2 separate regions of the Homo sapiens genome follow, and region 1 is linked to region 2. Evidence: fine-mapped QTL for protein levels in blood plasma. A gene starts in region 2. The other region holds a variant in brackets. All regions are shown on one strand. Distances are from middle to middle. Region 1 overlaps SLA2 (Src like adaptor 2). Region 2 holds the start of SLA2 (Src like adaptor 2).

What was found. A credible set is the group of variants that fine-mapping cannot tell apart. PIP is the posterior inclusion probability: the model's chance that the variant is causal. Protein levels are from antibody-based Olink assays in UK Biobank. Linkage for the fine-mapping came from a reference panel and not from the study's own genotypes, which makes the PIPs less certain.
Region 1: its variant is the best candidate, but not a certain one, in a credible set for the plasma level of the SLA2 protein (UK Biobank, PIP 0.60). The variant lies in the coding sequence of SLA2. If it changes the protein, the assay may bind it differently, which can mimic a change of level.

Annotation. Positions count from the first base shown.
Region 1 is chr20:36,612,849-36,615,751 of GRCh38, reverse strand. SLA2 (Src like adaptor 2) reads left to right here. Exons shown (of 8, transcript NM_032214.4): 6 at 378-527; 7 at 1,315-1,447; 8 at 1,766-2,903. The coding sequence ends at 1,886. Among named protein-coding and RNA genes, the nearest start is that of RAB5IF, 8.5 kb to the right of the region's middle. The variant C/T (reference allele first, on the strand shown) is at 1,359.
Region 2 is chr20:36,644,483-36,647,385 of GRCh38, reverse strand. It overlaps SLA2 (Src like adaptor 2), which reads left to right and starts at 1,190. Exons shown (of 8, transcript NM_032214.4): 1 at 1,190-1,549.

The DNA of each region.
Region 1 (2,903 bases), 32 kb after region 2:
ATTTCTCTTCCACCAGCAGGGTGGGAGGTCCTACTTCTCCACTTCCTTGCCAGCATCTTCTTGACAGTGTTTTTGCATCCTAACATATCTGCCACCTGAGTCTTTGTAAGAACAGCCAACGCTGAATGTTCACTCACACAGTGCCAGACCCTGTACTGAGGGCTCTGTGTGTGATTTGATTTCACCCTCACAAGACCCCCATCTATTATGAACATATTATTGATGACCAAGAGAGCAAGTCTTTGTCCTGCTTCTGCCCCAGACACTTCCCTTCTGCCGGGGCCCCATGGTCACGTTGCCTATCTTCGTTTCCCAGCCTAGGTGGGGCCGAGTCCCAGCAGGGCCTCAGTGCCACCCCTGGACCCCTTTCTCCTCAGGCTCTTACTCTCTGTCAGTCCGCCTCAGCCGCCCTGCATCCTGGGACCGGATCAGACACTACAGGATCCACTGCCTTGACAATGGCTGGCTGTACATCTCACCGCGCCTCACCTTCCCCTCACTCCAGGCCCTGGTGGACCATTACTCTGGTATGGCCTTTCCCTGCCTCCAGGACTAGGCTGGGATAGTCTGTGGGGAGGAGCAGGCAGTGGTGCCCTTGGATATTTTACCTACTGTGGAGTATTCAGACAGACAGAAGAGCGGCCTCCCCTATTTTCACGCCAGTCCCTATGCCAAGAAATGCAGGCTGGGAGCCCTGTCTTCACCTCGTGCCCTGGCAGAAAAGCCACAGACCTCCTGTGTAGGCTCAGGTCAGTACCTTGCCTACCACTCTGGTTCTGACTCAGAGCCCCTGGCAGCAGGCAGAGTTCTCTCCACAGGAACCGGGCACAGAGCTGCTGCTGTGTGGGATTCAATCCTGACTCTCCTTAGTACTTCCTGGTGCCTGTCCTTCAACAGACACTGGAAGATGCAGTCACTGGGCACAGCGTCAGGGGGCAGAGAGGGAAGAGCACTCTTGTGAAAACTCATTAGGGGTTTTCTGCAGGTCACTCTGTGTGGAAGTAGACAGTGAGTAGAAGTAGACTGAGCATTCCTTAGCTTTCTTCTTCCCAAAGCAATTTCCTAACCAGAAACTTGAGCTCAAGAGGTCCATGAACTCACCCTAAATCATACAGTGACTGTCTCCCAAAAGTTAGCCCAGAAAGACCTTTGACTACATCTGTCTCCATGAAACCAATAGCTTGGGGCTCATGTCCTATCACTCTTTGGTAACCATGCCCCCTCCTGCCAACTGCAGAGGGCTGTCAGGGTGAGGGCTGTTGGGGAGAAGTAGGGTGGAGTCAGTCATGTCAGGGATGGAGGTCTCTTCCTCAGAGCTGGCGGATGACATCTGCTGCCTACTCAAGGAGCCCTGTGTC[C/T]TGCAGAGGGCTGGCCCGCTCCCTGGCAAGGATATACCCCTACCTGTGACTGTGCAGAGGACACCACTCAACTGGAAAGAGCTGGACAGGTAAAGTTGGGGACTCCTGGAAACATGAAAGCAGGACCAAGAGTTAGAAGGACCCACCCCTGGGAAGCCACAACCCGGAATGTACCTGTCACACTCAGGGACACCTGGCAGCTGGAGCCAGAGTGCACTGACTCAACTCCTGGAGCACGGCCCAGGCTCGACAGGTGGGGCTGGGGAAGCTGATCTGATAGGGAACAGGGGAGCCCCATGAGGTCCTCAGCAGGAGTGAAGGGTTTTGAGAACAGTGCAATTTTGTGTGTAGTGAGTACAGGGAGGAGGAAGAGGCTTCTTGACCCAATTATCTTCCTTTGTCCACAGCTCCCTCCTGTTTTCTGAAGCTGCCACAGGGGAGGAGTCTCTTCTCAGTGAGGGTCTCCGGGAGTCCCTCAGCTTCTACATCAGCCTGAATGACGAGGCTGTCTCTTTGGATGATGCCTAGGCCCAAAGGAGAGGCCAAAAGGGAAACCAAGGCTGCACACCTAGAACCCCAATTCAGCCTCCTGGGCACCCCAGAGGCAAGGCTGTGCACTCAGGGAGGGAGGGTGGGACACAGAGGTGCATCTAGGGTCCCACCTGTACCCTTGCTCTTTCCTCTCTTAGCCCTTAGAAGTCACCTACTTCCTTCCAGTGCCATGATCCCACCTGCGACCTCTAGTGCGAGTGCAGAGAAGGTGGGACCAGGGCCAGGGTTCCAAAAAGAGAATAAGCCTCCTGGGGGGTCTGACCTAGTTAGTTCTTGAGTTTGGGGTTTCCAGTACCATCTGGATGCCCTGCCTGTTGAGCCCCATTCTACATCCCCACCATTAACCAGGCCCCACCCACAAGGTAGAAACAACCCCTAGAGTCAACGAGAAAGTCATTTTCAGAAAATCTACAAGTCTCGTTGAGACCACCACCATACCTCAGAAGGTAGGACTGTGGCCTAGAAGGGAAAGGAAAGCTGAGATGATGTCTTACCGTAGCAGCAGATCTTGGATGGTCCAGGCTCTATGTGACCTCCAGAGCAAAGAGAAAGACTTCGGACAGTCTAGGTCCTCAAATGTCCCCCATTGAGGACAACAGCCCCAGCTCTTTTTCTTTTTTTTGAGACGGAGTCTTGCCCTGTTGCCCATGCTGGAGTGCAATGGCACGATCTCAGCTCACTGCAACCTCCATCTCCTGGATTCAAACAATTCTCCTGCCTCAGCCTCCAGAATAGCTGGGATTACAGGCGTACACCACCATGCCTGGCTAATTTTTTTGTATTTTTAGTAGACATGGGGTTTCACCACATTGGCCAGGCTGGTGTCGAACTCCTGACCTCAGGTGATCCACCCACCTTGGCCTCCCAAAGTGCTGGGATTACAGGTGTGAGCCACGGCACCCAGCCTAGCTCTCAGATCTCTATTTCATTTTGTGGCTTACCATTCCCTAGCACACTGGCCTTGCCATCTTGTGGCCGAATAAAAAATAACAC
Region 2 (2,903 bases):
GAGCTGGAGTCAGGAATCATTTCAGTGCAGTGGGCCCTTTGTCTCCAAGAGTACTAATCCCCCTAATGGGGAAGCAGCGAGAGGGTGTGGTTAAATCTTAATGAAGAGTGGGACTGAAGGTAACACACTGATCAAAGACAATTCAGCCAGAGTCAGATTCTTTATCCTAGACCAGTGATTCTCAAGCTTGGGCATGGACTGTGGCTCATGCTTGTAATCCCAACACTTAGGGAGGTGGAAGTGGGAGGAACAATTGAGGCCAGGAGTTTGAGATTAGATGGAGCAGCACAGTGAAACCTCATCTGTACAAAAAAAATTTAAAATTAGCCAGGAGTGCTGGTGCACACCTGTAGTCCTAGCTACTCAAGGCTGAGAAGGGAGGATTACTTGAGCCTGGGTCAAGGCTGCACTAAGCTATGATTGTGCCACTGCACTCTATCCTGGGTGACAAAGCAAGACCCTGTAAAAAAAAAAAAAAAAAAAAAAAAAAAAAAATCAAGCCTGGGCATGCATCGGAATCACCTGGAGGCATGAAAACAGATTGCTGGGCCTACCTCCAGAGTATGATTCCATAGATCTGGGATGCGGCCTGAGAATTTGCATGTCTAACAAATTCCCGCTGAGGCTGCTGGTCTAGGGACCATACTTGGAGACCACTGTCCAGATACTGCTGCTATTCAAAGTGTGGTCCCCAGACTGGCAACATGGGGGTCACCTGGGAGCGTATTAGAAATGCAAAATACTGAACTCTGCCCCAGACCTTCTGAATCAGAGCCTGCAGTGCAACAAGATCCCCAGGTGATTCCTATACACATTAAAGGCTGAGAAGGCAGTGCTTCCCACACTCGTCAGTCAAGGGAATCTCCTGCAGGGTTTAAAATTTAGATTCCTGGGCTCCCTATCTGGAGACTTGGATTTAGAAAGTTTGGGAGATCCCAGAAATTGCTACAATTAAGTCCCGCTGAGTGATTATTATGGTCAGGCCAGCATGGGAACTCCGGCTCATTTTCCTCAGTCCTGTGTTCCTTGGACAAGACTAAGCCACAAAGCCAGAGAAAAACCTTTTGCTCCACGATCATGACAAGGCAGCAGCTGCTCCCCTAGAAACAGGAACTTGGGGAAGGTGGCTCCTCGACGGTCTGTGATGCCGTCAGAGGAAACGGGTGGTTGTGAGAACCACAGAGTCTGCAGTCGGAGCTAGAGCTCCAAGGACCCCACGCCTGTGTCTCTGTGACAGAGCTCAAAGGGCCCTGGGCCTTCCCTCCCTGGCTCGGCTGTGCTTGGGAGGGTTCCCCAGTCCAGAATCCCTAAGGAGCATGGGGCAGCTGATCCATCCCTGGTGTACAAACTGCTGACTGCAGACAGATGCTGAGCTACCCAAACCAACACCTAGCCTCTCCCTGAAGATCCTCCCAGGCTGAGAGAGTTCTGGGTGTCCTAGGACCAAGGACACTGGCAGACTTCCAGAAGGGCCCCCAAAGCCCTAACCTGTCCAGCCAGAGCATGCGTCTCAGCAGAGCTGTCTTCCCAAGCCTTTGATGACAAACCAGTAAGTATGCTTGCTTTTGTTCTTGGATGGCCTGGAGACAGGTGAGGAAGAATGGTCTCCCCTGCCCCGACTGGGACTGGGCTTTATTTGCTGTTGGGAAAAAAACAAGCTCAAGGAGAAGGGGGAGTGGTTCTACTGAGGCTGTAAAGAGGGGTGGTTTCTGGGGGTCCCAGAAGAACCAAGACTCACCTGCTCCACCTTTGACCTCCTCTTGGAGCTTACGCTCTTCCGTGCAGCTTGTCTTCACGCCCGTCCTAGTCCCATCTCAGGTGCGCACTTGCTGTGTGACTTTGGGCCCCTCTCTGCGCTGCAGTCAGACTCCAAAGTCAGGAACGTGAGGGCTACCATCTCTCAAGACATTTCAGCTGTAGAGCCTACAGTGCACTCTCACTCTCAAAGGGGTGATATTTCTCAATTGGAAGAGAGGGAGAGGTCTCCCTTTAACTCAATCCAAATTCATTTTTTTTTTTGAGTTGGGGTCTCATTCTGTTACCCAGGCTGGAGTGCAGCGGCGTAATTATGACTAACTATAGACTTGAACCACTGGGCTCAAGTGATCCTCCTGCCTTAGCCTCCCAAGTAGCTGAGACTACAGGCATGTACCACCATGCCCAGCTAATTCGTTATATTTTTGTAGAGATGGCAGGCGGTGGTGGGGGTGGGGGTGGGGGTTCTCACTATGTTGCCCAGGCTGGTCTCGAACTCCTGGCCTCAAGCAATCCTCCTGTCTCAGCCTCCTAAATTGCTGGGATTACAGGCATGAGCCACTGTGCCTGGCCAAATTCATCACTCTTACCCCCACTGCTGAAAAATGATCTTCAGAAGCACAAAATACACATGATGGCAGGCCCAGTCCTGCACGAATGGGCTACATGAACAGAATCACATGGTTGTCCTCTCAGGGACTTGGTCACTGTATCTGAAATGGGACCCAAGTGAGATACTGAAAAAAAAAAAAAAAAAAAAAACACAATATTCTGGGCAGCGTGCTCATCTCGGCTGCCGTTGACTAACTTTTTCCTTTCACCCGATGCCTCATGTCCTCCGGAAAGTGCCTGGCACATAGTAAGTTTTTCAAAAATTTGTAGAGTTAATGATTTGATGCTGTCTTACAAAATGTGCGGCTAATACTCTGCCTCCTCCTAGGCTGGCCCATTGTATGGTCTTTATTTTGCCCCCAGGGGCTTATTGGCCTTGACCTGACCAAGTCCTTGACCAGGTGAAGGGAGCTGCAGAGACTTTGGGGAGGCTTTCAGCCTGAGTACAGCTCCCCTGTCTCCATCTGCCTTTGGGCCCAGCCCCCAGCTCCACCTGCGGCAGGAAGGAGTCTCTCAGTTTATTGCAGGTGGTAACT